7 linked regions of the Homo sapiens genome follow. The protein of the gene in region 1 interacts with the protein of each later gene in a pairwise test. Each region holds a gene or a part of one and is shown in the gene's direction. Other genes may lie near its edges. The genes, in order: NIF3L1, LMO3, PTPA, BEND7, FXR2, SULT2A1 and NME7.

The links.
Region 2: the proteins of NIF3L1 (region 1) and LMO3 interact in binary tests that used the Homo sapiens proteins (3 or more experiments, as listed by UniProt).
Region 3: the proteins of NIF3L1 (region 1) and PTPA interact in binary tests that used the Homo sapiens proteins (3 or more experiments, as listed by UniProt).
Region 4: the proteins of NIF3L1 (region 1) and BEND7 interact in binary tests that used the Homo sapiens proteins (3 or more experiments, as listed by UniProt).
Region 5: the proteins of NIF3L1 (region 1) and FXR2 interact in binary tests that used the Homo sapiens proteins (3 or more experiments, as listed by UniProt).
Region 6: the proteins of NIF3L1 (region 1) and SULT2A1 interact in binary tests that used the Homo sapiens proteins (3 or more experiments, as listed by UniProt).
Region 7: the proteins of NIF3L1 (region 1) and NME7 interact in binary tests that used the Homo sapiens proteins (3 or more experiments, as listed by UniProt).

What each region holds. Positions count from the first base shown.
Region 1 is NC_000002.12:200,895,176-200,899,640, forward strand, and holds part of NIF3L1 (NIF3-like protein 1), read left to right. Parts: intron 1-88; coding exon 89-215; intron 216-1,900; coding exon 1,901-2,039; intron 2,040-4,209; coding exon 4,210-4,293; intron 4,294-4,465. UniProt on the Homo sapiens protein: May function as a transcriptional corepressor through its interaction with COPS2, negatively regulating the expression of genes involved in neuronal differentiation.
Region 2 is NC_000012.12:16,554,163-16,558,627, reverse strand, and holds part of LMO3 (LIM domain only protein 3), read left to right. Parts: intron 1-4,465.
Region 3 is NC_000009.12:129,135,106-129,139,570, forward strand, and holds part of PTPA (serine/threonine-protein phosphatase 2A activator), read left to right. Parts: intron 1-1,365; coding exon 1,366-1,490; intron 1,491-2,486; coding exon 2,487-2,587; intron 2,588-4,465. UniProt on the Homo sapiens protein: PPIases accelerate the folding of proteins. It catalyzes the cis-trans isomerization of proline imidic peptide bonds in oligopeptides. Acts as a regulatory subunit for serine/threonine-protein phosphatase 2A (PP2A).
Region 4 is NC_000010.11:13,494,278-13,498,742, reverse strand, and holds part of BEND7 (BEN domain-containing protein 7), read left to right. Parts: intron 1-1,854; coding exon 1,855-1,977; intron 1,978-4,465.
Region 5 is NC_000017.11:7,600,753-7,605,217, reverse strand, and holds part of FXR2 (RNA-binding protein FXR2), read left to right. Parts: intron 1-1,137; coding exon 1,138-1,209; intron 1,210-1,312; coding exon 1,313-1,461; intron 1,462-2,215; coding exon 2,216-2,309; intron 2,310-3,692; coding exon 3,693-3,809; intron 3,810-4,465. UniProt on the Homo sapiens protein: mRNA-binding protein that acts as a regulator of mRNAs translation and/or stability, and which is required for adult hippocampal neurogenesis. Specifically binds to AU-rich elements (AREs) in the 3'-UTR of target mRNAs.
Region 6 is NC_000019.10:47,869,359-47,873,498, reverse strand, and holds the end of SULT2A1 (sulfotransferase 2A1), read left to right. Parts: intron 1-1,931; coding exon 1,932-2,044; 3' UTR 2,045-3,032; downstream 3,033-4,140. UniProt on the Homo sapiens protein: Sulfotransferase that utilizes 3'-phospho-5'-adenylyl sulfate (PAPS) as sulfonate donor to catalyze the sulfonation of steroids and bile acids in the liver and adrenal glands.
Region 7 is NC_000001.11:169,297,828-169,302,292, reverse strand, and holds part of NME7 (nucleoside diphosphate kinase homolog 7), read left to right. Parts: intron 1-3,529; coding exon 3,530-3,737; intron 3,738-4,465. UniProt on the Homo sapiens protein: Possesses an intrinsic kinase activity. Displays 3'-5' exonuclease activity with a preference for single-stranded DNA. Does not seem to have nucleoside diphosphate kinase activity.

The sequences.
Region 1 (4,465 bases):
ATCTATTATAGTAGGTTTGTAAACTGTGGATTATCTAAAATACATTTTGGCTATATTTGTCCTAAATGGAGTGATTTTTCCCCCCTAGGACTGGTAATGAGGAACAAACACGGATTAATCTGAATTGTACTCAGAAGGCTTTGATGCAGGTGGTAGATTTTCTTTCCCGGAACAAACAACTTTATCAGAAGACGGAAATTCTGTCACTGGAGAAGGTAATAAGAATATTTTGTATTTGATCTTAAAATACTGTGCACACATTTTCTAACAGTATAATTGAGGTATAATTGATATACTTAGGTATATTGAGGTATACCTTATTGAGGTATAATTGATATACTAAGAATTGTACATATTTGATGTGTACAATTTGATGAATATCATTACTTTGCATTTTTCTTCAGCAAATTCATTTGTAAATTATTAGATCAACAGGCCATTCACTGTTATCTAAAGTACAAAATGGCAATGAGAGCATAATATTCTCTAGGAAGTAATTGAGAAAGGGAGACATTCCAGGAACAGGAAAATATTGGTACGTCTTCAGGGTTACAGATTTGGTTACAGGTTTGCTGTCTCCTTATTTTACACGCTCTGCCTGGACCATGTCATTCACTTCTTTAACTTGATAGCCATTTGTATGATGATTTCTATCTTTACTTTTTGGCTTAGAATGCTTTCTTAAGGGAAAAAATGACAAGAACCCATATTTTCATCTACTTTCTGGATGTTTTGCACTTACAGAGCCCACAAGTATTTCAAATTCAGTATATCCAAATACTTTATCCGTTTGCCACCCCCGCTTTTTTTTTTTTCCATATTTCATATTTCAGTATCATTATCTACTTTAGTTTCCAAGTTTTCACATTCCTCCTTGACTCCAGGCCCTGCTGAGTCTGGCCTCATATCTATACAGTGTTTCTCCTCTGTATTGGCTCTGCCACCACAGTAGTTGAAACTCTCATTTTCTGCGATGAGAGTAGTCTCACCGAGCACCTAGGAGGCAGTCCAGGCTCTTTAGCATGGTGTTGGAAGCCCTTAATGATCTGCTACAGCCTGGGCCTCCAGCCTCCTCTCCTTCCACAGCATGTACTCTGCACAGTAGCCATACTGTCTTCTTTTGGATCTGCCCCCATAGTGTGTTCTCTCAAGTTTTTGGCACCTTTGTCCATGTCCTCTGTGTTTAGAATGCCTTTCTCCATCTCATCGTACCTCTGTCCTGCCACACTGCACTTGACATCACCCCTTTTTAAACTCTTTATTTCCCCCTTTTTAACTCTTTTAGGGTTTTCTCTAAGACCTAAGTCCTTCCTCCAAGTACTCCCCAAGCCTCCTAAGTCACAGCTCATTTAGTTTGTCATTCTTTGTGCTGCTGCAACTGTAGCACCTACCTTGTATTTAAACAGTTTTATTATTTTGTTTATTTGAGACAGGGTCTGGCTCTGTCCCCAGGCTAGAGTGCAGTGGTACAATCTCAGCTCACCACAACCTCTGTCTCCTGGGTAGCTCAAGCCCACCTCCCATTCAGCCTCCCAAGTAGCTGGGACTGCAGGCGCACGCCACTGCCTGGCTAATTTTTGGATTTTTTTGTGGAGATGAGGTCTCACTATGTTGCCCAGGCTGGTCTCAAACTCCCGAGCTCAAACAATCCACCCACCACAGCCTCCCAAAGTGCTAGGATTATAGGCATGAGCCATCGCGCCTGGCCTGATTATTGATTTAAACATCTGCCTTCCTAGAAAACTGTGAACTCCTAGAAGAATGATTTTGTCAGGTTTGTATCCCCACATTTAGCCTGGAGCTTGCTATAGTAATCTCACAGTGTGCATGTTGATGATTTTAGCATTTGTTGTTTTAGGACTAACAATGCACACCGTTTCTAACTTCTGTTTCTCCTCAGCCTTTGCTTCTACATACTGGAATGGGACGGTTATGCACACTGGATGAATCTGTCTCCCTGGCAACCATGATTGATCGAATAAAAAGACACCTAAAACTATCTCATATTCGCTTAGCCCTTGGGGTGGGGAGAACCTTAGGTAAATATAGCTCCTTCATCTATCCAGTATGCCTACTGTTAACATTGGACAAAGATCGAAACTCTTGGTTGTATTAATATGTGATAGAGAATGTGTTAGCAGCTCATAGGAGATAATTGGTTTACGTTATTGATTAGGGTGGGCCAGGTTCTGATGTGGAATACATCTCATTGACTTAATCAATGAGATTTATTTCTCTGTCATGCTATGTGTTCATTTCAAGTTGGTCATTGTAGGAAGTCTGACCATTGTAGACTGGTTGCTGTTGCAGAGGGAGGGAGTTTTGCAGGGTCTTAAACCATCAGTTTAAAATTCCAGGAAACATGTTAATTTCTGCTCAACTCATTTTCCAGAATTAGTCATGTTGCCCAATACAAGCAAGGGAGGCATAAAGTGCAGTCTTACCATGTGTCAGGAAGAGAGCTGGAATCATGATTGCTACAATTACAACATAAACTTTGCACTTATAAGACTGGTAATATTTTCTAGTGAGGTGCTACTGAGTGATCTGATCCATTGTAGTTTCTAAGTCTTGTAGTTTTTTCTTCTGGCCTTTCCTGGTACTTTTGAGAACAAAAAGAGTGAACAGACATTTGTTCAACACCTTCAGTGAGCCTAGCACTGTACTGATTGTCTGTCCTAAGTACGTGAGCTCCTGCTGGCAAAAGCAGTGGGGTACAGCGGTTATAGGTGTGGATTCTGAGCTTAGACAACCTGGCTTCAGATTTGTCTGTCCTGTTTGCTGCATGTCTTTGACAAGTTTATGCCCTCTGTGTCACAGTAGCCTCATCTGTAAAAACTGCATTAATAAAACCTAACTCAGAAGGTGGTAGTATAATCCATGTGACATGGCACAGTGATTGGCTCACATTAAGTATAAAGTGCTAGCTGTTGTTAGTTTTGTGGTTGGTACTATTTCTCCCATTTTATAGGTGAACAATTGTGGTTCAGAGAGATAAGTAACTTTATTAGTTCGTTCTCACGCTGCTATGAAGAAATACCTGAGACTAGGTAATTTATAAAGAAAAGAGGTTTAATTGACTCACAGTTCTGCATGGCTGGGGAGGCCACAGGAAACTTACAATCATGTTGGAAGGCACCTCTTCTCAGGGTGGCAGGAGAGAGAATGAGTGCAAGCAAGAGAAATGCCAGATGCTTATGAAACCATCAGATCTCGTGAGACTCACGCATTATCACAAGAACAGCATGGGGGAACTGCCCCCATGATCCAATTACCTCCACCTGGTCCCGCCCTTGACCCGTGGGAATTATGGGGATTATATTCAAGGTGAGATTTGGATGGGGACACAGAGCCAAACCATATCAGTAACTTATCTAAAAGTCCAGTTAGATCAAACAACCCAAGGGAGTTAGTGTCCAAAGAAAATGGATAGCAGAGGTGGGATTTGACTTCCAAAATAACTCCAAAGCCCCCTCTTTGAGATACCCTGCTGCTGAACTGGAGTGTCCACTAAAGTGTTCATTTTAGAAACCCAAGTGCTAAATACTTGGATTTTGGCTCGAAAGTTGCTGTTATTTCACTTTCCAGAGGATGCTTTTTGAGAATAAATAGTATATTTAAAAATAGTGCCAAATCCATTTGTAGCATTCCTCTTTTTATAGTCCTTTTAGTTCCTTAGCTTCCTCACCTGAGAATAGAGATAGTACTTGCTTACCTCTCACTGTTGTCTGAAGACCCAGGTGAGATTATTTTACCTAGCACTGTTGCAATACAGCCTAGAGCTGCACCATTAGTACTATTCAGTGGTTTGTGAGTTTGTGCAGCCATGTCCAAAGGAATAACGGTGCCCCCTTCAGCAGCACATATACTAAAAATTGGATGATATAGATTAGCATGGCCCCTATGCAAAGATTACACGCAAATTTGTGCATTGTTCCGTATTTTGCGCAATTTACAAAGGTTGTTGAAAAAAAAAAACACAACAAAGGAATAATAACCATGCCTTGGGTTAGCTATGCAATATCAAAGAATGACCTGTTTGCTTATATTAAAACATGTTTTTTTTAAAATGCAGTAAGAACAATTCATATACTGGTGATGAGACCAGGAGTGAAATCTGTATTATGTTTAGGATTCTTGGTACAAATTATAATAGTAAAATGAAAGGGAATTGTAAAGTATTGGTCTCTTGTTTCCTCTGTTTTGAAGAGTCTCAAGTCAAAGTCGTGGCCCTGTGTGCTGGTTCTGGGAGCAGCGTTCTGCAGGGTGTTGAGGCTGACCTTTACCTCACAGGTAGGACAGACTTTGGATCTCTCTTGGTTTATTTTTTGCAAAATCAAAAATGGCAAATTTTAGGACAGTACCTGGCACATAGATGATACCTAATTAATGTTTTCTGAACCTGAACTAAACAGAAACTACAACAGAACTGGGGACTTACTGCATTCTTTGTGGAGGGATGAAA
Region 2 (4,465 bases), on another chromosome or scaffold:
GAATCAAAGTAAGTTCATTCAGTCTAGGGTAACATTTAGACGAAAATAAATTGGCAAATGCACATGTTTTTGGTAGGGATAAGGATATACAAACACAAACATTCCCACATCCATACAGACACCTTTATGTGCATGTATATATGTATTTTATACATTTTAAAGGTGTCTTAGTAGTAAATTTAGAATACTTTTGTTGACTTGTCATGTTGATCAACTAATAGCAGCCAGTAACCATGCAGTTCCCATTATGGAATCATAAAGTCATTGCTTTTCTACTTATAAAAGATTACATATTCATAGTAGGAAATTTAGAAAATAGAAAATGATAAAAACAAGACATTGTCCCATGTCTCATTCTTCTAAAAGAAAACATTTTAATATTTTGATATATAGCCAGCCATACATGTTCCTATGTCTATAGGACAAATGACATTGTATAAATATTACACTCACATTTAAGCAAATTAAAGTTACAAGGGAGAATCCTAATGTTTGATATTTGGACTTTTTCACTCAATTTATATTTTGTGCCTTTTTTACCTGCCATTAAAAATTCTTTTAAGATATTTTAAGCTTTTCTGAGTTCAGCTTTATGGACAGAGCTTCACATATGTCTTCTATCATCAGATATATAAGTTGTATCTTCAAAAGTTTTTGTGCTGTAAATATTATCAGTATTATCAATATAAAAATGGACCTTATGAGACCCTGTAGAATAGTAGAAAGAATGTGACATTTATAGTGAGAAGAGATTCAGATTTCAGCACCACCATATAGTAGCTGATATATTAACTGTGTGATCTTGAGTATGTTACTTAATCTCTCTGAATTTGATTCCCACACCTACAAAATAGAAACACTAATACCTCTCTTGCAGAGTCTGAAACTTCAATAAAATAATTTATGTTAAATGTCAGGAACACAACTGGTTCTCAAAAGTTAGTTATTTTTATAATTTACCAAATAATAGTCCACTAACTTGACTTTCCCACAAGACATATATCACAATAGAGTTTCTTGCTAAATGTAGATATTCAGATTGTATAAAAACAAATGCTCATATCTCTATCTGGTTAAATTCACAGAGCATGATTACTTAAACAAGGTATATAACAGTTTGAAGGCATATGCTGTACATTGCTTAATGATCTCCAGGAAAGTTATACCAATTATTCTCCTAGCAGAAATCTACAAAACTACGCATTCCCTCACATTCATTCTAAAACACTAGGAATTACGTTTAAAAAAAAAAAAAAAAAATCCTTGCCACCTTAAGGGATGAAAGATAGTATTTCATTATAATTTCTAACTGGCATTTATTTGATCCCTGGTGGTCCTTTGGTATTCCTTCTTTTAGAGAAGTAGGCAGTTTATGTCCTTTGTCCATTTTCTTCTATTAAGTAGGGTTACCTATTTTATCCATGTTCTACATAGAAAATAAAAACATTCAAGTGCTAAACCCAGCCTAAATTCTATTATGATGCAAAGTAATTGTAGGTTGTTAATGCTATTTACAAATCATATATCTATTTTATTTCACCATTGAAATAAAAAGTTGCATTCACAATTAAGTCTGTCTCCTCAGGAGAACTCAGTCAAGTAAGACAAACACTCCTAAATTTTGACTCTAAAACTGTTCACATTCTTATTGCTGCGAAATACTATTCTAGTATCATTATTAAAGTACCTAATATATTTCTGTGTTCGCTTCATTTATTACATGCCATAATGGGACTGCATATCTTTAGTGCCGGTTATGCACAATTAGCACTTAGTTATTGTCTTGTCACTTCAGCCCCTACAAGACAAACTAATGCGGGAAGTCAGCTAATCTTCATCAGTCAAGCAAAGCAGACAAATTTTGTTACCCAGGATACAGAAGGTTTTCATATAGGAGATTCTCCTTTTACTCTGAAGTTTGCTTCAGTCTCCTCCAGGAAACCCATATCCCACTTCCAGTAGCCAAATCATTGTCGCAATATTGCACTTTTCAAGTGAAACACAAGGCAAATAGGTAATTCATAGGCATTTTCTCTTAAGCAAACTTTATTGACGTCTAAAGTTGTGGAATTACGCGTTTGTGAATTGTATTCAGCAGTCATTTCATCTTTACCTTTAAATCAAAGTATCATTAAGATCCAAAGCATTTCTGAATGTTTTAAAAAGTAGCAGTAATAATAACCTTTCAGGATTGATTGTCCCTTATATATAGATCTCCTCTGCCCCTTTTAGAGGCGTATAGCTAAAACGTGAATCCTGCATTAAAATTCGGCTAGTTTCTCTATTTTAAAAGGTACCGCAGGAGGGTTATTTAAGCTTATTTTATGATATCTTGAATCTCATTCAGAATTGGAAGATTCTATATAACAGGTTAATTTCTTAAAGGTGAATAAGCCCCTTCTCCTTAGAAAACACAATAAAACTAAATGATAGTTTTGTAAGAAAAGGAAAAATAAAAAGCTTGTGATGAAATTTTCCCAAATATGTAAAATTATGTAACAATTAATTAATTTTCTTTTTTTTAAGAATAAAGCACTGTGCTAGGCTCTGTGGAAGCTGAGGTGGATAAAATCTGGTTTATTTCTTAGAGGTGTCCGGAGCTACGGGAGAGACAGGACATCAAAGACTCACAGAAGAGTGTAATCGATGCTAAATAGAGCTATACTGAGGGAAGAGAGAGCCATCCTTCTTGAAGTGTTAGGGAAGCATCAAAGGCCTGATATGCTGGGTCTTGAAAAAAGAACTCCCTAGAACTGGTTGACTTACAGGAAGTGTGTCTGCTCGGGGTTGGGGAAGATGAGGGAGCCAGGGAGCAGTGAGGAAAGGAATTTTCAGGCAAATTGAGCAACGTGCAAAGGCATGCAGATGTGAAAGCATTTGACGTGTTTAGGAAATGAAAAGCGGCTCAGTATGTTCAGAGATTAGAGAAGCGGTTTGGTAGGCACATGGAGGAGTAGAAAGAGAGCAAGCACCTAGAGGAAATGAAATTGTAAACTTAGTCTTTGAAAAGCCATTAAATAAAAGTCAAAATGAATACAAATTTAAATTAGTCATCTAAAATACATTTGTTATTTAAAGCTGTTGGTTTCTGGAATAAATCTACCTTAACCAATTTTTATTGACCACACACCTTAAGTGGTAGTACAGTTTATGATGGTTCTGCAAAGGGTTCAAAAGAAATATAACTCGTGGTCATTTACCGCAGAACTGCTGACTATAATGGCAAACCAGTTACACATTCATGAGAAATTTTGAAACACCAAAATAAACAATACACCAATAAATAAGTGCTTTGGGAAACATCAGAATAAGCAAATTTACATGGTCAGAAGATGTTGATGGAGGCAATGGGAACTCAAGGATTGTTACAATTTAAGTAGACAGAAAAAGGGGAGAAATATTTCTTGCTAGGGAACAACTTAAGTAAAGGTGAAAAGATTATCATTACCAAATAATAATGATAGCAAATTCTGATAAAGTATTAGTCAAACACCAAACACCGTTCTGAGTGTTTTACATGTACTCATTCGTTTAATACTCAAAATATCCCATAAATAGGTAGTTATTAGCTTCATTTGACAGATGAGGAAAGTAAAGTATAGGAAATGTAAGTAACTTGCCCAAGATTACAGTTAGAAGAAAGTGGTAGACTCAAGATTTAAACCTGGCCGGGCGCGGTGGCTAATGCCGGTAATCCCAGCACTTTGGGAGGCCGAGGCGGGCGGGCGGATCACGAGGTTGGGAGATCGAGACCATCCTGGCTAACACGGTGAAACCCCGTCTCTACTAAAAAATACAAAAAAATGAGCCGGTCGAGGTGGCGGGCGCCTGTAGTCAGAGCTACTGGGGAGGCTGAGGCAGGAGAATGGCGGGAACCCGGGAGGCGGAGCGAATCTGGTCTCCCTCTCCGGAGTCAGGCCCATTTCAAGAGAGGTATTTTATTTTCTGACTAAGAGCATATAAATGTGAATAGATATAGTGGACTTAAAGTAAGGTAAACTTTGAATAATGTATAGCAAGATTTGGGGTGTGGGTAGTGTCATTTGATACACTAAGGGTTGTTAGCAGTGAGATGTATAATGACAACCGGACTGTCAGTGGGAAAGACAGTAAATTTGTTCACAGGTGTATAGTGGAGGAATGAGTACACAACCCGGACTTCTTATTGAAAACAGTATAGTATAGAAATCTCTAACTTACAGTTAACTGAAGATGTGGAATAGGAAAGTATAGACACTAGAAATATGGATTGGAGCTCCCTAGCTAAGTGTTGTAAGATAGAAATTAATCATAATTGTCAGTCACTAACATTAGGGAAAGAAGATGGCTAGGCTAACATTTTTATTTCTTAAAAGGGATGTTACCAGTGGAGGCTTCTTAGCATAGGCTTTTGATAACCTGCTTAAAACTAAGCACTATATTTTATAAGGATGATTTACTATTTACACTTGTTTCATATACTTCT
Region 3 (4,465 bases), on another chromosome or scaffold:
TCACATAGGCCGGGCGCGGTGGCTCACGCCTGTAATCCCAGGACTTTGGGAGGCCCAGGCAGGCGGATCACGAGGTCAGGTGTTCGACACCAGCCTGGCCAACATGATGAAACCCCGTCTCTACTAAAAATACAAGAATTAGCTGGGCGTGGTGGCACTCGCCTGTAATTCCAGCTACTCAGGAGGCTGAGGCAGAAGAATTGCTTGAACCCAGGAGGCGGAGGTTGCAGTGAGCTGAGATCGTGCCACTGTACTCCAGCCTGGGTGACAGAGTGAGACTCTGTCTTAAAAAAAAAAAGAATTGTCACATAATGTCTGCCAGTATTGACACAGTGTTGACCATATGGAGGAAGAATTCTAAGCACTTTATGTATAACTCATTAATTCTAACAACAACCCTATGAAATAGCAACTGTTATTTCCATTTTACATATGAGGAAACTGAGGCACAGAGATATCCGGTGTCTTCACTGGGTTCACGCCAGCTGAACCCAGGTAGTCAGACTCTGACCTGCTGCCCCACACCACCCAAGCCAGTCGCTGGGCAGCACTGATGTGGATCAGTTACCCAGAGCTCTTAAAATCCCCATTGCGGGCCCCAGTCTAGCAGTGCTGCTGCAGCAGGCCTGTGACGGAGCCCAGGAGCAGTGCTCGATGCTTCACAGGTGGTTGATATGCAGCCTCTGATAATATAGAAGGTTGGAACCAGAAGAACCTAGGAGATAACCTGCTGGGACTTGTGTTAGCTTTCAGACAGGCCAACTGAGGCTGGAGAGGCTGAGGCCCTGCCCAGGGTTTTACAAGTTGTCAGGAGTTGATGGCACCAAAACCCACCTTCCTAATCAGTGATTTTTTATTTATTTATTTGTTTATTTTTTTTGAGACAGGGTCTTGCTCTGTCGCCCAGGCTGGAGTGCAGTGGAGAGATCTCGGCTCACTGCAAGCTCTGCCTCCTGGGTTCATGCCATTCTCCTGCCTCAGCCTCCAGAGTAGCTGGGACCACAGGCGCCCACCACCACACCTGGCTGATTTTTTGGATTTTTAGTAGAGACGGGGTTTCACCGTGTTGGCCAGGATGGTCTCGATCTCCTGACCTTGTGATCCGCCTGCCTCGGCCTCCCAAAGTGCTGGGATTACAGGCGTGAGCCACCGTGCCCGGGCCCTTAATCAGTGATTTTTATGCCTTTCCTGAGCCAAAAGATGGCTGAGTGTTTGTTGGGGGAAATAAAGCTACATTATTGAAATTGAGACCAGTTAACACTCTTCAGTGGTTATTTTGGGGTCTCCTTGTGCTCCCAGTGGCCGAAAGGGTGAGACTGTCTTTTTACTTTTTGCTACCTTCCCTTTCCCTGTCCTCCTGTGCAGGTACCTTGAGGTTATGCGGAAACTCCAGAAAACATACAGGATGGAGCCAGCCGGCAGCCAGGGAGTGTGGGGTCTGGATGACTTCCAGTTTCTGCCCTTCATCTGGGGCAGTTCGCAGCTGATAGGTACTAGAGCGGGAGGTGCCTATCCCTCCACCCCCAACCAAGGCTGCGTTCTGTGGCCCTCCCCTGCCCCTCCTGCGCTCCCTCCTTCCCTTCTTCCTGCCCAGGGCAGACAGTGACAGCTTGGAAAGCAGGGCATTAGACCAGCTATTGAGGGAGGCTGTTTACTGTCGACCTTCTGCTGTGAGAGCCCGTGTGGTGGGCTGGAGGAGGCGGAGGCCAAGCGCCACCAAGATAATGGGAAGTGACATGGGCTGGAGCAAGGGCGCACGCCTGGTGCATAATGGACTGGTGTGAAATGCGCCCCAGCTCCTGGCAGCAGCTGTGGGGTTTTATGTTGAAAATGAGGGACCCTTTTGATTTGGTGACCAGTGTCATCCACTGTTATTATCGAGCTGTGTGCAAAGGGGCCCGTTAGGGAGCAGCCGCCAAGTGCTGGGTGGTGGGCCTGCTTCCTGTGGGGCTCAGAGAGGCCTGCTCTGGTGACTCCCCAACTCTTGAAGCTAGTTTTCAGGATGGGCGTAGGTGATCATCTCTATTTTGATGAAGAATGAACTGCCTACAGACTGATATTCATAAATGACCATTAGTTGTGGCCTCGGGTGCATTGCCTCCCCGAATCTTCTCAGTGACACTGCGAAGGGTCTGCCAGCATGAAGCCGGCTCTGCTGACTGGCACCTGCACCAGGCACCATACTGAGTGCTGTAGGTGTGGTAATTGTTGTCATGGCCCCTAGGAGGAGGTGCTCTTCTTGTCCCCAGTGTCCAGGTGAGGAAACTGAACCTTGGCAGGCTGAAGTCATGCGTCCAACGCCATGCAGCTAGAGCTTAGCACATTAGAATACACAAACCCAGAGTTACTTATTGCTCCTTCAAGGTGAGGTGTTGAGGGCACCACGGGCAGGACTGAGGCCCCTGGGGGGGTGTGACTGCTGGGCCGGGTTGCCCAGGTAGTCGTGGGGCCTGGTTCTGAATGCTGGGGCCCATTCCTTTTCCCAGACCACCCATACCTGGAGCCCAGACACTTTGTGGATGAGAAGGCCGTGAATGAGAACCACAAGGACTACATGTTCCTGGAGTGTATCCTGTTTATTACCGAGGTGAGGAGGAGGGGTGAGAGAGAAGCCCATGGCTGCCTCCAGGCTCAGATGAACCAAGGCTGGTGGCCTTACAGTGGATCAGAAGAGCCAGAGCTGCTGCCCAAAATGGCAGGGCCGGCCGGAGCGGGTTATTGAAAAGGAAGCACCACTGGGCCTCTTCCGAAAGAGCCGCTGCTGACTGTCAGGTCCTCCGCCCAGTTCTCCTTCAGTTTCTCCTGAACACCACAGGAGTCTTGAGATGAGGGTCTAAGACTTGGTCACTAACTGGCCTTGGTGACTGCTGCAGCAGGTCTGAAAGGGTCGGGGCGGGCGGAGGTTTGTGGGGGAGGGTCAGCATCTTTCGGTGGGGCCCCACAAGGGTCTGTAGAACCATGTGCTGTGGATGTGTAAAATGAAACCACCAGAGGAGATGGAGCGAACTTCTGGTGCAGACAGCTTTTCTGTCGAAGGGACACGTCTCTGTCAGTGCCTGAGGACGTGGGCCCGAGCAAAGTGCTGGAGTGGGAGTGCGCAGGCCTGGCCTGTGGTGGCAGTCACTGGATAGCCAGCCCCACGGCTGGGTTCTGGAACTGGAAGTTATTGTCTCACCAAGGCAGGATTCCTTGCAGTGGGCCCTGGACCACTTGTGCGAGATCTCCTAGTGTGTTTGTTAAAACGCACATTCCTGGGCCCTCCATCCCAGCTTATTGCATCAGAATCTTAGGGGACAAGAGCCAGGAACCTGCATCTAAACACACGTGCCAGGCGACTGCACAGGAAAGCTGGGGACCCTCTGCTCTCTGGACCTCTCTTGAGGGAGGTGTTAGGACTTCTCATCCTCTCTGCCATCCCCATGCCCCAGTTTCCAAAGGGCGCCCTCGCTCAGCTATCTGGAGAGGGTTTGAGAGTTCTATCCCTCCTCAGTCCCTTTCCCGACACCAGCACGGATGTCTGCTGCCTCAGTGAGGTTCCTAGCAGGCCTGTGGATGCTGGCCACGGGGGCTGCTCTCCGTCCGGGCTGTGTATTCTGAGCCCCCGACGAGGTGGAGAAAGCTGGGTTATAACCAGCAGCCTTGGCTCCAGGCTCTTCCTGGTCAACATTCGGCTCAGGCTTCTGCCAAACTCCAGAGGCCAGAGGGGAATGACACATTTTTTCCAAGTCAGCAAATGGAGCCGGGACTGACGGCTGGGCGGCCACCACTTCATTCCCGGAGATCTGCTGCCCTCAGCAGTGTGGCAGGCCCAAGGTCGGGAGGACTTGGGGGCAGCCTGGCTCACTGCCTTGAAAGCCAGTCACGCGCTGCTCTCTGTGGAGTGGAATGTGGGGGTCTGCGGAGCCCTGGGGGACCTCAGGATAAGCTGGAGGAGCAGGGTGGGAAGAAGGGTGCAGATGCCACACTGAGTTCTTGGGTGTGGCTGAAAGGCTGAGCTGTTTGGGCTCCCCCGGCGGCTGGCCAGGCCTCTGGGTCCCTGTCGGTATTCTAACTAGGAGGCATGCCAGGCCTGGCCTCCAGGATTTTGGGAATTGATTCCATGGTAAAATTTTGTCTTTAGTTGGTTGGTTGATTTTGTTGGTATAAACACCCCAAAAGCTTTTCCAAAGTTTGGGACCCAGTTCCTCCAGTAGAGGAAATCTCAAAGTAGCCACTAGGTGGCAGGAGAGGCACACTGAACTTGGAGAGGGTTTGGTGACATTTATTTGAGGCAGCAGAAGGAACAGGGAGGGGAGGGCGTGCCTAGAGTTGTTGGCTGTTCCGCACCTTCTCCACAGGTCCGGGTTTTCACTTTGGGTCTAGGCTCTTGGGCATGGTGTTCAACAGTAGACCCTAGGAGGAGTGTGCCCAGGAGCCGGGGTGGCTGCAGCAAGGGCCCATCTTGCCACGTGGCCGCTGGTTGCAG
Region 4 (4,465 bases), on another chromosome or scaffold:
TCCATAAAAATAAAAAGTCAGTTCTCTTTAAAATTAGAAAATGATTTATAACAAGCTGAAAAGGGTTGGTTTTGTCTTCTAAAAATGATAAAAGATGGTACTTAGAATAGTGACTAGAAATATTCTTTAAGACCTTTCTAACTCTACTACCATGGAAGAGACAATAAGAGAAATAAAATACCCTTAGGTATGTATGAAGTTAATAAACCCCACATCAGTAAGTTTTGGGTGAACAGTGTTCTGTTTCCCAGTATACAGTAGGGACAGTGGATTTACTTTGAAAAGTATGAAGTTAGTAAAAGTTACAAACATAAATTCCCCCATATCAGTTTGAAAATAGATATTTTATGTTTTCAATAGAAATATGGCTAGGCGTGGTGGCTCGTGCCTGTAGTCCTAACGCTTTGGGAGGCCGAGATGAGTGGATTGCTTGAGGCCAGGAGTTCGAGACCAGCCTGGCCAACATGGCGAAACCCCATCACTACTAAAAAATACAAAAATTAGCCGGGCGTGGTAGCGCATGCATGTAGTCCCAGCTACTTGGGGGGCTGAGGCATGAGAAGCGCTTGAGCCTGGGAGGCAGGGGTTGCAGTGAACCAAGATCATACCAGTGCACTCCAGCCTGTGCAGCAGAGCGAGACCCTGTCTCAAAAAAAAAAAAAAAAAAAAAAGAAAAAGAAATATATTACATATAACTGTGACTACTTTGGTATTTCATTGGGATTATTTATAATTTTAAAGTTGTAACATTACAATTTTGCTACAATTTTGAATGTAAATAATTGTACCACTACAATCACTAAGTTATCCTGAAGTATTTCATGGTTTTGCTCTGGTGAATTTTTCTATAGTATTCCTAAATAATGCATATTACAGGATTTAAGGTATATAAAGTATAATAAAACATATAATTGGAACAAAACCATGGAACTTACCTTGCTGGCCTGTGAGACAATGTGAGCGCTGGAAGTCTCTAAACTGCTCCATTTTATGGTGGTCAGGTGAACAGGTGCTGGAGGGAACCCACTGTAAGAGCAATGTCCAAATGTCCCATTTTATTCTAAGGACAATAGAAGATACTTGCTTACCTATGAGAGAAACAGAATAAGATAGGTTTACCAAGGAAAAGGCATTAAATTTAAACAGTGCAAAAGAGGCTGTGGCAAGGGAAAGATAAGACATGGGAATGGAGAAAAGAGGTAGAGAGATTTTCTTTGTGAAGCTGAAGAAAAGCCAGCCAGCCCACCAATACCCTCGAACGCATCCAATTCGAATATATCCTCCCATCCCTGCTCCTCTGTGCTTCCCCACCCCAAACGCCACACCCAGAGAGTATTCTAAAAGTTTTCATGTGTGCACAGTTCTTTGTTTTTGAAATAATGTGCTTAATATCAAAACTATTTTCAATAGAACTCATATAATTTTTAATATGAACTCTTAAACACAGCTACCAAATTTTTTTTGCAAGGCTGTCCTCAGGGCTCCTTTTTTGTGTGAACTAGCATGAGTGTGTTTCGAGTGAGTTTTTGAGGTGTTGTTATTTGAGATGAACAGCTCTGACAATAGGGAGGCCTGCTGTGCCCACTCATTGTGTGTGTGTGTGCATGCGGGCTCCCGCACCGCGCCACAGCACGCACGTTACAGTATGGAAGCCTGGATAATTAGATAAAGTCAGACCCCCAGATTTAGGTTGTGATAATTAGTGGGTACGTTTTCCTTAGGCACAGCTTCATCATAATTGCACATGCTTCAAAATCCTGCCAAGATACTTTCTTTTTTCTCTCCACCTCTTTATGATTTTTTTTTTTTTTTTTGGTTTGTTTGGAGTATGTCATTCTTTTCTTTCATGCTCAGGAGAACTTCCAGTGGTGAATTCATCAGCTGGATCAAACTGCTGTACTTGTAACTGCCAGTCAACGTTGCAGGCCATTCTACAAGAACTCAAGACCATGAGGAAATTAATGCAAATTCAAGCAGGTACAAGGATCAGGCCTCGGAATGAGTCCTTTGATTTTTAATGCATATCTGACATCTTCCGTTGGAATGTTCATTGTGCTTTTATTAAAGCCTTCTTCTCACCTTGCTGTCTTGCTGTGCCTTTTCAAGTATCTGTTTTTTCAGCTTTCTCTACAATCCATTTTTCCTTTAGCAAATCAAACATATTTTGTCTTGCTACTGATACAGCTCATATAATTATGTGTATGTACTCGATAGACTTCATTCCATGATCTCCTAGTACTTCACAAATGTCAGTTAATTAAATTTGGGAACAACTGTGTATGGAGGGGTCCTTTAGGAAGCATGGGCTTCAGTGTTCAAGCACTAAGCAGATAAGAAATGTGGAGCCCCAGGCTATGCTTTGTGGCTTTTCTCTCTCCTATTCAGGATGCGGAAGCTCAGAAATCCGCCGTGTTCTGTCGTCTTTGTTTATGTGACTCCTTTTTGTTTTCACTGCCATCAGGCAAGTTGAGGGACGGAAGAGCAGTGGATTTGTAATTTGGGATTGGATGCCAATTTCTGCTTTTGGAGCTGTGTGGCGCATCTGAGCTTCCTATTTCACGTCTGTAAATGGAGAATTCATATCTAACTCACAGGGCTGTTGTCAAAATAGAATGATGTAGTAGCTGTCAATGAACTTTATAAGGCATGGTACAAGCCTAAGCTGTTTCATTAGTGTGGTCTTAAAGTCCATGAAGCGTTCTATAGAAGTCTGGAAGTCTACGTCTTCATTATAGCAGCTGTATTTTCTGATCTTCACAATTGAGGGAAAACAGAATTGTTTTTGTCACAGGTACAAGAAATAAATCATTGTATTAAGTTTTCCCTCTTGTCAAGGGACATCACCACTTGATCTAAGCCATGTCGTGACTGGCTTTCCTGCCCTTTCATCAGGATGGTAGTCCGGAAGGTCGTCACTCAGAAGCTGTTCAGGATGCCATTTAGTGAATTCTAGTATAATTTTAATATTCAGTGATGTGGTTTTGATATAAAAAGCTTAATTAATACTTAGATATATCAGTCACCCAAGATCACATTAAAGTAATGTGAGCTACTTTCTGAAAAACAGCATCTTTTTATTTGAGATGGAGTTTCACTCTTGTTGCCCAGGCTGGAGTGCAATGGCATGATCTCGGCTCACCGAAACCTCTACCTCCCAGGTTCAAGCGATTCTCCTGCCTCAGCCTCCCTAGTAGCTGGGATTACAGGCATGTGCCACCACGCCTGGCTAATTTTTGTATTTTTAGTAGAGATGGGGTTTCTCCATGTTGGTCAGGCTGGTCTCAAACTCCCGACCTCAGGTGATCTGCCCGCCTCAGCCTCCCAAAGTGCTGGGATTACAGGCGTGAGCCACCGCGCCGGGCTAAACAGCATCTTTTTAAGCACTGAATTTGGTTTTACCCCAAGGAAGTATTTTGCTCAGGTCAGTAAGCATTGGACTCACCTTGTTCCACTACGATAATCTGTGTTCTTATTAACCTGGAGGAGGTTAACATCTCCTAAATAAGGAGCTCAGAAAGAAAGGTTACTTTATGATGTTCGGATTCTTTTCTCCGAGGAGGAATTTGTTAGCACTTAAGAAAATATGCATATGAAATTGTAATGATTTGTTTTGTCACTTAAGCTCCTTACTACTGAAATGGCAAACTACAAATTGCAACCATTTAAATCCTTGACGGAAGCCTTTTTAGAATCTATTAAGTAAATGCCACTTTGTCGCTATGTTTTCTTTTCTGAACCTTTGCAGATTAGGGAGGTAAACGATTCCAAAGCTGTAGGATGGCACAAAGGATAAACTGAATAAATTACTCTCCTTTAATTTTCTTAAACTTAAAAATTTGTGTCATGTGGGTAGATTTACTTAAGGTTTAATGCCTGAAGACTTAGATTTAAATTACATTTAGAAAGTTTCACCTTTCTTTTAAGAAGACAGGGAATAAGACCTAGAGGTAAGATCTGGATGCCAGAGACTTGGGCTGTGTCTAGATTTGCAAAAGGAGAAGAAAAACTCAGATAGTCCCCGTGTTCCTTAAACCAAAACATTTTCATTTCTAATTGAGAATCATGAGGCTTAGCAAGGCCTGGGGCCTAGACCATCGTGATCATTATTCGAGGTCCCTTTGATTCTGAGGGTGCAGACCCAGCCTTGAGGGGGAATGCAGAGAGACCAAAGAGAAGTTCCCAACTCTGGCTGCACAGCAGAATCACTGGAAGAGCTTTCAGACAATGCTGTTTCCCAGGCAGCATGCCTGGAGGTGTCAGTTCACTTCGTCTGGGGTGGGGCTGAGGCATTTCAGTTTTTTTGTTTGTTTGTTTTTGTTTTTGTTTTGAGACATAGTCTCACTCTGTCGCCAGGCTGGAGTGCAGTGGCGTAATCTCGGCTCACTGCAACCTCCGCCTCCTGGGTTCAAGTGATTCTCCTGCCTCAGCCTCTCAAGTAGCTGGGACTACAGGTGCCCACCACCAT
Region 5 (4,465 bases), on another chromosome or scaffold:
TTTTGCATTTTTGTAAAGACATGGTTTCACCATGTTGGCCAGGCTAGTCTTGAATTTCTGACTTCAGGTGATCCACCCGCCTCAGCTTCCCAAAGTGCTGGGATTACAGGCATGAGCCACCATGCCCTGCCGTCCTCTGATTTTAATTAGTTCCTTCCTCTGGTTTCTTGTATCCTTGGTTTAAGATACATCCCAGGCTGGATGCAGTGGCTCACACCTGAAATCCCAGCACTTTGAGAGGTCGAGTGGGGCAGATCACCTGAGGTCAGGAGTTCAAGACCAGCCTGGCCAACATGATGAAACCCCATCTCTACTAAAAATACAAAAAATTAGCTGGGCGTGGTGGCGGGCGCCTATAATCCCAGCTACTTGGGAGGCTGAGGCAGGAGAATCGCTTGAACCCAGGAAGTGGAGGTTGCAGTGAGCTGAGATTGTGCCATTGCACTCCAGCCTGAGCACCAAGAGCGAAACTCTGTCTCAAAAAAAAAAAAAAAAAGATGCATCCCAAATACCTTTTTTTTCTTTTTGAGATGAAGTCTCACTCTGTTGCCCAAGCTGGAGTGCAGTGGCGCGGTCTCAGCTCACTGCAACCTCCACCTCCTGGTTCAAGTGATTCTCCTGCCTCAGCCTCCTGTGTAGCTTGGAGTACAGGCATGTGGCACCACACCCGGCTAATTTTTGTATTTTTAGTAGAGGTGGGGTTTTACCATGTTGGCCAGGCTGGTCTTGAACTCCTGACTTCAGGTGATCAGCCCACCTCAGCCAAAGTCCTGGGATTATGGGCATAAGCCACCGCGCTTGGCCTCTTTTTTTTTCGTGGAAGTGGGGTCTCACTGTGTTGCCCAGATCGTTCTTGAACTCCTGAGCTCAAGAGATCCTCCCACCTTGGCCTTCCAAAGTGCTGGGATTATAAGCTTGAGCCACTGTGCCCAGCAGCCCCAAATATCTTAATGGTTGTTCTATTGTTTATGTTGCCCAAGCTGGTCTTGAACTCCTGGGCATAAGCAGTCCTTTTGCCTCAGCCTCCCAAAGCGCTGAGATTACAGGTGTGAGCCCCACCATGCCCGGCCTCCTCATCCCTTTCTTGATGCTTTTGGGTGGTCTTCAATATCTCTTTGATTCTCTACTTTTCTTTAGGTTTATTCTCGAGCCAATGAACAGGAACCTTGTGGCTGGTGGCTGGCCCGGGTGCGGATGATGAAGGGAGATGTGAGTGACTGGGAATGCCTTTGGAGAACTACTGAAACAAATATGTTATTCATAGAAAGTTGCTCAGGTCATCCACAACTTCTCCTTTTTTACCATGTGCCAGTTCTATGTCATTGAATATGCTGCCTGTGATGCCACCTACAATGAAATTGTTACCCTGGAGCGACTTCGGCCAGTTAATCCCAATCCCCTTGCAACCAAAGGCAGCTTCTTCAAGGTTACCATGGCTGTGCCCGAGGATCTGAGAGAAGCGTGAGTGTTAAGGATGGTGGGAATGAGGGCCCTCTTTACAGCCCTAATCTCTGGCTTTATTTCTCCCAGGCATCACTCCCACTTTGCAGTTTTCTCTGTTGTTCCCCTGGCCCTCTACTAGAGCCCTTCTTGCTAAGAAGACACTTAGTTTCTTTATTTTCCCATCCTTGTTCTTTAACTGTGGTCCCTCTTCTTTTCTTTTCCTTTCTTTCTTTTTTTTTTTTTTTTGGAGACAGAGTTTTGCTCTTGTTGCCCAGGCTGGAGTGCAGTGGCACAATCTCGGCTCACCGCAACCTCCACCTCCTAGGTTCAGGCGATTCTCCTGCCTCAGCCTCCCGAGTAGCTGGGATTACAGGCATGCACCACCACACCCGGCTAATTTTGTATTTTTAGTAGAGACAGGGTTTCTCCATGTTGGTCAGGCTGGTCTCAAACTCCTGACCTCAAGTGATCCGCCTGCCTCAGCCTCCCAAAGTGCTGGGATTACAGGCGTGAGCCACCGCACCCGGCCCAGTCCCTTTTCTTTTCTTATTTACTCAGCCCTGCTTCTCTGAATTTTTTTTTTTTTTTTTAATAGAGACAGGGTCTCACTATGTTGCCCATGCTAGTCTTGAACTCCTGACTTCAAGTGATCATCCTGCCCTAGCCTCCCAAAGTGCTAGGATTACAGGTGCAAACCACCATGTCCAGCCTCCCCCGAACTCTTCACTGTACTCTCTGCATTCTGCCCGCTGAGTACTTTTTTCCTCTGCAGCTGCTCCAATGAAAACGTCCATAAAGAGTTCAAGAAAGCCCTGGGAGCCAACTGCATCTTTCTCAACATCACAAACAGTGAGCTCTTCATTCTGGTGAGTTTATTCTGCCTGAATTTCACATAAGCCTTTTGAACATTTTTTCTTTTTCCCTTTTTAACCCTTTTGCAGAAAGAGAAGGGCTTAAATGTGCTTATATTTATTTGTCAAGAGGACTTTATTGCTCCTGACTCCTACAGGCCCAGGTAGCCCTACCTTTTTTTTTTCTTTTTTTTGAGACGAAGTCTCACTCTTGTCACCCAGGCTGGAGAACAATGGCACGATCTCGGCTCACTGCAACCTCCACCTCCCGGGTTCAAGCAATTCTCCTGCCTCAGCCTCCTGAGTAGCTGGGATTACAGGTGTGCGTCACCACGCCGGCTAATTTTTTTTTTTTTGAGATGGAATCTCACTCTGTCGCCCAGGCTGGAGTGCAGTGGCGCGATCTCGGCTCACTGCAACCTCCACCTCCCAGATTGAAGCGATTCTCCTGCCTCAGCCTCCCGAGTAGCTGGGATTACAGGCGCCTGCCATTGCGCCTGGCTAATTTTTTTTTGTGTTTTTAGTAGAGACAGGGTTTCACCATGTTGGCCAGGCTGGTCCTGAACTGCTGATCTCCTGATCCACCCGCCTCGGCCTCCCAAAGTGCTGGGATTACAGACGTGAGCCACCGCGCCCGACATGCCCGGCTAATTTTTGTATTTTTAGTAGAAACAGGGTTTCACCATATTGGTCAGGCTGGTCTTGAACTCCTGACGTCGTGATCCGCCCGCCTTGGCCTCCCAAAGTGCTGGGATCACAGGCGTGAGCCACCACGCCCGGCCTCTGACCCTTTTTTTTTAAACCTGATAATCATGTTGCCATCTGGGTTAGAGACCCTCTCTTGATATTTGGACTTTCAGAAATAGAGTATGTAGCTCTCACCTTATGCTTGCTCCTTGCTTTCTCTCTAAACCATTTTCCTTCAGTACCCTGATAGTCAGCCTTTGTGGGACTGACAATGAGTCTCCTCCTTCCTAGCTTCATTTCTTTTTTTTTTGAAAACAGAGTATTGTTCTGTCACCAGGCTAGAGTGCAGTGGCGCAGTCTCGGCTCACTGCAACCTCCGACTCCCGGGTTCAAGCGATTCTCCTGCCTCAGCCTCTGGAGTAGCTGGGATTATAGGCATGTGCCACCACGCCCAGCTAATTTTTGTATTTTTAGTAAAGACAGGGTTTCACCACGTTGGCCAGGATGGTCTCGATCTCATGACCTCGTGATCCGCCTGCCTTGGCCTCCCAAAGTCCTGGGATTGCAGGCATGAGCCACCGCGCCCGGTCTCCTAGCTTCATTTCTTAACCCTTTTCCCGGGACTTAGGCATCCTGATTTCTAGTCCCTGGCTCTCCCTTAGTGTTTATTCCAAGCCAGTTTTAATGACTTTCCCACTGGTTTCCTCCCAGTCAACCACAGAAGCCCCTGTGAAGCGAGCATCTCTGCTGGGTGATATGCATTTCCGAAGCCTGCGCACCAAACTGCTACTTATGTCCCGCAATGAAGAAGCTACCAAGCACCTAGAGGTAACTTTTAGCTCCTTTTCCTTCTGCTGAAGGGTATTGTCTTCCTCCCTTCCTACCCTGTCCTCCATCCATGATCTTGTGTTTACAGAACAAAGACTAAGGCTTTTTCTGGGCAATTAAACCTGGGTCAGCTATTTTATCTCAGACTCCTCCAGATGGCAGAGCTCTATCATGGTATAGTGCAATTATTTTCAAATTTCTTTTAGCCAATTTTTTTTTTTTTTTTTTGGGAGACAGAGTCTCGCTGTGTCGCCTAGGCTGGAGTGCAATGACACGATCTCGGCTCACTGCAACCCCTGCCTCCTGTGTTTAAGCGATTCTCATGCCTCAGCCTTCTGAGTAGCTGGGATTACAGGCGTGCGCCACCACACCCGGCTAAGTTTTGTATTATTAGTAAGATGGGGTTTTGCCATGTTGCCCAAGCTGGCCTCGAACTCCTGGCCTCATGTGATCCACCCGCCTCAGCCTCCCAAAGTGCTGGGATTACAGGCGTGAGCCACCACACCTGGCTGAATGGTTTTTTTTGAGACGGAGTCTCACTTTGTCACCCAGGCTGTAGTGTAATGGTATAGTCTCAGCTGACTGCAACATCCACCTTCTGGGTTCAAGCGATTCTCCCGCCTCAGCCTCCTGAGTAGCTGGGACTACAGGCTTGT
Region 6 (4,140 bases), on another chromosome or scaffold:
CATGGGGTGAAAGAATCCATTTTTCCAGGGCCAGGCGTGGTGGCTCATGCTTGTAATCCCAGCACTTTGGGAGGCCAAGGCGGGTGGATCACCTGAGGTCAGGAGTTCAAGACCAGCCTGGCTAACACGGAGAAAGCCCATCTCTACTAAAAATACAAAAAATTAGCCAAGTGTGGTGGTGGGCGCCTGTAATCCCAGCTACTCGGGAGGCTGAGGCAGGAGAATCACTTGAACCTGGGAGGAGGAGGCTGCAGTGAGCCGAGATCCTGCCATTTGCACTCCAGCCTGGGCAACAAGAGTGAAACTCCGGCTCAAAACAAAAATCCATTTTTCCAAAATCCTACAGTTCTAATACATCTGGGACAGTCCTCCGTGGAAGAAAAGAATTAAATCCTTCAAAAGACCCAGAGTCTTGGGCAATCGTAAAAGTAAACGTTGGCCGGGTACGGTGGCTCACGCCTGTAATCCCAGCACTTTGAGAGACCAAGGCAAGTGTATCACTTGAGCTCAGGAGTTCGAGACCAGCCTGGGCAACATGGTGAAACTCTGTTTCTACTAAAAATACAAAAATTAGCCATGTGTGGTGGCGCCCACCTGTAGTCCCAGCTACTTGGGGTGGGGCTGAGACATGAGAATCGCTTGAACCCAGGAGGCAGAGGTTGCAGTGAGCCGAGATTACAACACTGTACTCCTGCCTGGGAGACAGAGCAAGACTCCATCTCAAAAAAAAAAAAAAAGATAAATGCTGAGACTTTGTATAACTTATCTATATTAGGGATACATACCATACACATACACCACAGAAAGAAAATACACAGAACCTGTCCTACATGATATGTGTTATGAGGCGAAATACAGCAAGGATGGGGAGTGACCTCTAAATTGGGTGGTGAGAGAGAACCTCGCTGAGAAACTTGAATTGGAATAAAGACTTGAAAGAGGCAAATAGGCAAGTCATGGGCCAATCTGAGAGAGCAGCGTTCCAAGGAGAAGGAGCGTGGGACGCCAATAGTCTGAGGAGTGGGGATGCCTGCCACGTTTGAGGCAGAATCAGAAGTCCCCGTGTGAGTAGAGTGACGGAGAGGGTAGTTTTAGGGGATGAGCTCAGAGAAGCCACAGGGGCTGGATCACCTGGAGCCCTGTAAGCGCCTCCAGCACTTGTACTTGAGTGAAACCTAGAGTCCTCGGAAAATCTGAGCAGAGAAGTGGCATGATCTGGGATCATGAGGGCTGCCATGCTGAGACTAACTTATGAAAGAGAACTTATGAAAGCAGAGGCCAGGCCGGGTGTGGTGGCTCACGCCTGTAATCCCAGCACTTTGGGAGGCCAAGGCGGGCGGATCACCTGAGGTCAGAAGTTTGAGACCAGCCTGGCCAACATGGCAAAACCCCATCTCTACTAAAAATACAAAAATTAGCCAGGCGTGGTGGTAGGCACCTGTAATCCCAGCTATTCGGGAGGCTGAGGCACGAGAACTGCTTGAACTCGGGAGGCAGAGGTTGCAGTGAGCCAAGATCGCGCTACTGCACTCCAGCCTGAGGGATAGAGCAAGACTCCGTCTCTACAAAAAAAAAAAGAAAAAAAAGCAGAGACCAGTTACAAGTGTACTCTAATAATCCAGGTGAAAAATGATGTTGGCTTGAGTCAACGTGGTAGAAACAGAGGTGGTGAGACGTGACTTGATTCTGGACATATCAGATGATATACTGGCGTTATTGCTGAGGAATTGTACACAGGATGGATGGGAGAAAGGAGAAAATAGGAAATTGTTTCCAGCTAGGTGAATAACTATGTGACCAGGCAGGATAAAGGCCCACCACGAACCATCGGCCATTCTGCTATGTTAGCTACAATGTCCATGTCAGGTGCCTGGTGGAGACAGGTCAAGGAGATGTGTGGTCTGACCTGAGTTTCTGCTTCTTGTTTCCAGGTGTATCTGGGGACTGGAAAAATCACTTCACAGTGGCCCAAGCTGAAGACTTTGATAAATTGTTCCAAGAGAAGATGGCAGATCTTCCTCGAGAGCTGTTCCCATGGGAATAACGTCCAAAACACTCTGGATCTTATATGGAGAATGACATTGATTCTCCTGTCCTTGTACATGTACCTGACTGGGGTCATTGTGTAAGACTTATTATTTTATCCTGAAACCTTAAATATCAAACCTCTGCATCTCTGATCCCTTCCTTGTTAAAAGTTACCAGGGTTGGCCAGGCACGGTGGTTCATGCCTGTAATCCCAGCACTATGGGAGGCCGAGACGGGCGGATCACGAGGTCAGGAGACTGAGACCATCCTGGCTAACACGGTGAAACCCCATCTCTACTAAAAATACAAAAACCAAAAAAAATTAGCCAGGCGCATTGGCTCATGTCTGTAATCCCAGCACTTTGGGAGGTCGGGGGGGTGGGGGAGGATCACGGGGTCAGGAGATCGAGACCATCCTGGCCAACATGATGAAACCCTATCTCTACTAAAAATACAAAAATTAGCCGGGCATGGTGGTGCACGCCTATAGTCCCAGCTACTCGGGAGGCTGAGGTAGGAGAATCGTTTGAACTCAGGAGGCAGAGGTTGCAATGAGCCAAGATCGCGCCACTGCACTCCAGCCTGGGTGACAGAGCGAGACCGTCTCAAAAAGAAAGAAGTGACTAGGGTTCAGAGAACCAGGGTTCAAAGCCCAGGGATGCAAAGGTTGCAGTGAGTTGAGTCATGGGATCCCAGACTTTTTTAAATGTTTGCAATGTTTCCCGTTTACAGAATGCTACAAGAATAATGTACGTACTACCTAAAAGGATGTCTAAATGTTTGTTAATAAAAATAAGAAATAGCTACAGTGACAGATTTTAGAGCAAAAATTAGTAATAAAAATAAGAAATAAAATTACAGGAGCAATTAAGGTTCCATTTCTTTTCATCACATGTATCTCCACAATTTATTATTGCTCTGATCTTAAGGAGTGTAATTTGCAATCTAATTTTATCCTCTTACTCTGTGTTGTTAAACCATATACAATAAACGGTGTTTATGGAGGCTTCTAAAACTTTCATAAGGCCAGGTGCGGTGGCTCACACCTGTAATCCCAGCACTTTGGGAGGCCAAGGAGGGCGGATCACTTGAGGTCAGGAGTTTGAGACCAGCCTGGCCAACATAGTGAAACTCTGTCTCTACTAAAAATACAAAAATTAGCTGGGCATGATGGCACATGTCTGTAATCCCAGCTACTCGGGAGGCTGAGGCATGAGAATTGCTTGAACCTAGGAGATGGAGGTTGCAGTGAGCTGAGATCATACCATTGCACTCCAGCCTGGGCAACAGAGGGAGACTCCATCTCAAAAATAAAAAATAAAAAAACTAAAGTCTTGTTCCGCAAAAGAACCAAAGAACCTATAAAGAGAATGAAAAGATAGGCCAGGTGCGGTGGCTCATGCCTGTAATCCCAGCACTTTCGGAGGCCGAGGCAGGTGGATCACTTGAGCTCAGGAGTTCAAGACAAGTCTGGCCAACATGGTAAAACCCTGTCTCTACTAAAAATAGAAAAATTAGCCAGATGTGTTGGCGGAGGTTGCAGTGAGCCGAGATTGTGCCACTACATTCCAGCCTGGGCAACAAAGTGAGACTCCATCTCAAAACAAAATGAGAAAACAAGAAGACAAACCAGAGATGGAGAGGAAGTACTTGTAAATCTCATATCTGGCAATGGACTTGTTTCTAGAATACATAAAGAACTCCTAAAACCCAGCATTAAACAAATAATCTTTTAAAAGAAAAAAAAGAATAAAAGATTTGAACAAACATTTCACCAAAGAGGACACAGGGATGGCAAATCAGCACATGAAACGATGTTTTGCATCATTTGCCTCTAGAGAAATATAAATTAAAACCACAACAAGAAGGCCGGGTAAGGTGGCTCACGCCTATGATCCCAGCACTTTGAGAGGCCAAGGTAGGTGGATCACTTGAGCTCAGGAGTTTGAGACCAGCCTGGCCAACATGGTGAAACCCTGTCTCTACTAAAAATACAAAAATTAGCCAGGCGTGGTGGCGGGTGCCTGTAGTCCCAGCTACTTGGGAGGCTGAGGCAGGAGAATGGCTTGAACCCGGGAGGCGGAGCTTGCAGTGAGTTATGATCCTATCACT
Region 7 (4,465 bases), on another chromosome or scaffold:
CTTTTTGGTAGAAAGGTTTGTTTTCTTTTGGATATATAGCAGTAATGGGATTTAAGGTTCAAATGGTAGTTCTGTTTTAAGTCCTTTGAAAAAACTCCAAACTATTTTCTACAGTGGTTGAGGTACTAATTTGCATTTCCATCAACAGTGTATAAGTGTGTTCCCTTTCTCTACAGACTTGCCAGCATATCTGTCGTTTTTTGACTTTTTTTTTAAAAAAAAATCAACTTCTATTTTAGATACAGGGGGTACACATGCAGATTTGTTACGTGGGAATATTGTGTGATGCTGAGGTTTGGAGTATGGATCCCATCATCCAGGTAGTGAGTATAGTACCCAATAGGTAGTTTTTCAAACCACCTGCCTTCTCTCCTCTAGTAGTCCACAGTGTCTATTACCCCCAAATTTGTGTCTATGTGTGTTTAATGTTTAGCTCCTACTTGTAAGTGCGAACATGCAGCATTTGGTTTTCTGTTTGTGGATTAATTTGTTTAGGATTATGGCCTCCAATTGTGTCCATATTATTGCCAAGGACATAATTTTATTTTTTTATGGCTGTGTAGAATTCTGTGTTATATATATATACCACATTTTCTTTATCCAATCTGCCACTGATGGGCACTTGAGTTATTTCCATGTATTTGCTATTGTGAATAGCACAGCAATGAGTGTATGAGGGCATGTGTCTTTTTGGCAGAATTTCTTTTCTTTTGGGTATATACCCAGTAATGGAATTGCTAGGTTAAATGGTAGCTCTGTTTTAAGTTCTTTGAGAAATATCCACACTGCTTTCCACAATGGCTGGAGTAATTAATATTCCCACCAACCGTGTATAAGCATTCTCTTTCCTCTATAGTCTTGCCAGCATGTTATTTTTTGACTTTTTAATAATAACCATTCTGACTGGTGTGAAATGGTATCTCATTGTGGTTTTGATTTGCATTTCTCCGATGATTAGTGATATTGAGCGTTTTTTCGTATGCTTATTGGCTGCTTGTATGTTCTTTTGAGAAGTGTGTATTTATGTCTTTTGCTCTTTTTTTAGTGGGGTTGTTTCATGCTTGTTTGATTATTTAAGGTCGTTACAGATTCTGCATATTAGTCCTTTGTTGAATGCATAGTTTGTGAATATTTTCTCTCATTCTGTGGATTGTCTTTTTACTCTGTTGCTAGTGCAGAAGCTTTCTGTGCAGAAGCTCTTTAGTCCCACTCGTCAATTTTTGTTTTCGTTGCCATTACTTTTGAGGACTTAGTCATAAATTCTTTCCCCAGGCCAATGTCCAGAATGGTGTTTCCTAGGTTTTCTTCTAGGATTCTTATAGTTTGAGGTCTTACTTTTAAATCTTTAATCCATCTTGAGTAAAGTTTTGTATATGGTTAATGTTAAGGGGCCAGTTTCTTTCTTCTGCTTATGGCTAGACAGGTATCCCAGCACCATTTATTGAATAGAGAATCCTTTCTCCATTGCTTATTTTTGTTGACTTTGTCAAAGTTCAGATGGCTGTAGATGTGTGGCTTTATTTCTGGGTTCTCTATTATGTTCCAGTGATCTATGTGTCTGTTTTTGTACCAGTACCATGATGTTTTGGTTACTGTAGCCTGTTGTACTTTTAAACTATTTTGGTAGTCTTGTATACATAAAGCAATGTTCATGGAACCTTTCTATTTTAACTAGTTTGATATATATTTTGTTCCTTGACATAGAACAGATAATATATGTTACACTTTATGTATTCTAAATATTTGACATGTAATTAAATTTAAGTGAATATTTTGCATGCTCATATTATTATTACTGTTGCCAAAGACTGTTTACACTTCTAATAAGAAAGAATGTTACATCAGCCAAACTAAATGGCCACAGTAGACATGTTATTTGATATCCTGCACTGAGTAGTGGGTTTTTAAAAAAATTTGTATGTAAGAAAATTATTATGCTATAGATTATTTCAAATCAAGTGTTATAAAATATTCCTAAGCCTTCTTAGAATAGCTATATACACTTTTCTAGAAAATTGGTGGAAATTATCTTTTGGTATAAACTTTGTATATGTTTATAGCATTAACTTACAACTCCTAGTCTAATGATTTATGTGTGATTTGCATGCAGTAAATTTTATTAAAGGAATGAATTAACTAGTTGCCTGTTAATGAGAATGATGTAACAAAAGACTAGGTGAAGTAATTAAATTTTCATGAAGCAGTATCTATGATCAGGCACATCCTTCCCTATATTGTTACATGCCATATTCATAGGCTTATTCAATTGTGTGTTTTGAGAATTTTGTATTAATAGGGCGTTAGATTGTAAGTGTCTTGAAGGGGGATCTTTTTTGTGGCACAGACGCTGATATGTTATAGGCAATTATTAAATGCTTATTGAGTGAATAAACATGGTTTGCTCCTTTGATTTGGGTTTTTTTAAATCTAGTGGTTGGTCTTGGGGGTTTTGTTTGTTTTGGCAGCAAAGGTCTGGCAGAAAATGTATGAGGAGGTATTATAGAACTCTTAGGATAGAAGACAAGAATACTTTTTTGTACATGCTGTTTTTTAGAAATATTCTTCAAAATGAATGGGAGTGTTTTAAAAAGGAAGTACTGAGGGGAGCTGACATATAACATGCAGGGTGGAAGGAAGTGTGTAAAAAATAGTCATAAGTTAGTGGGCACAAAAGAGCCTGTCACACCATGCTCCTTTCTCCAGGAGGATCTCTTCTCTCTACTTTGGATGAGAGAAAACCATGGGCTTACTCTAAAAAGTACTGTGTCCCTGCTTAATATAGTCAGAGGGAGGATGTCACTTATTTCATAGTTAAACTTGTCATTGCATCCTGTACACATATAAAAGTAGAAAATAAAATGAAGTATTGTCTTTTATACCTTGGGGGACTGTGACTCAGTGCTGGATTTTTAGTCAAGAACCGATGCGTACACTTTAATAATTTAATACAGAAATAACCCAGAGTAGTTTTTACGCTAATAAAAGGATATTTCTTGAAGCCTGCTGGGGATTTTTTTTTTTATCACCAAACCAGCTCAGTGTTTATTGATTAAGAGAGTTCTTTGTCAGTCTTTGAATTCTAATAGTTTTACACAAAAATAAATAAATTCTTACTAAAAATATGTTACAAGGCATCCATCCCTATATATTGTGAAATTGTACTTGACTGCAGTGGTAAACACATGTAAATAAAAAGGAAAATCCTCTGTACCTGTTAGAGCACTGGGAAAAGCATAGGTCAACAGTATGCATTTTAAGTCATGAAATAGTCTTAATTCAACAGAACAGTGATTTTTCTGGTAACAGTAATTTGACATTACTAGTGATTTGAAGTGAATTGAGCCACTGCAAGACACTCAATTTATGAAAAATTTCTCCTGCCCATGTAAAATTAACTATGCTTAATGGTTCTAAGATTATAATATTCATGTCTATGTTGAAATAATCCAATTTAAATATATCCTGTCGTTAAGACAAATACCTAGTTGACAGAAAAAAGAAGCAAACTAATCTTCTATCTGTTTTGTAGTGAGCTGATCCAGTTTATTACAACTGGTCCTATTATTGCCATGGAGATTTTAAGAGATGATGCTATATGTGAATGGAAAAGACTGCTGGGACCTGCAAACTCTGGAGTGGCACGCACAGATGCTTCTGAAAGCATTAGAGCCCTCTTTGGAACAGATGGCATAAGAAATGCAGCGCATGGCCCTGATTCTTTTGCTTCTGCGGCCAGAGTAAGGTGTTTTAAAAATATTTTAATGCTCTTCTAGTTCTGTTAAATGTTTTATATCAAAGGAAAGCATTTCTATCACTGGTGACTTAGGGTGGATTTATGCTGCTGCTCTAGTAGTAGAGAAAACCTTTGACATCTTGCCTACTATCAAACAGTGATTCAGTGTGTCTCCTTTGTGAACTGGTAACCTGATCATGATCAACGTAAGTTTTCTCCAATTAAAACACTTCTCATCCTGTTTCTTGTTCCCAAGACTTAAATTACTGAGGCTCCTAAATGTTTGAATTATTGAATTCATGTAAGAATACCAGTTTATGGCTAGTAGATATTAAAAAGAAGATATAATTTGAGATATTTCCTTTTGATTCAGACGTAACACTGTGCTTTCAAGCTTAACATCCTATTATTTTCCTATATATAGCTAGTGTTTATGAAAGTTTCTCTACTCCTTATTTTTAAATCCATATAAATAAAGCATTTATTGGATTTATACTGAGGTTGAATTAAAGAAGTGTAAGTTTATTTTTAGCATCGTGAGAAGTGTCTCACTTAAGGTAGTTTTTAATCTGGTTGTGTTTGCAATGAAACAATATTAGACAGTTTTATAATTGATTTCTTTCTTTTTCCTACCATTTCATCAGCAAGTCCCTTCAGCTCTTTCAAAATAAACCCTGAATCTGATCATTGTGGTCTGAATCACTATTATATTTTGCCAGAACTGCTACAATA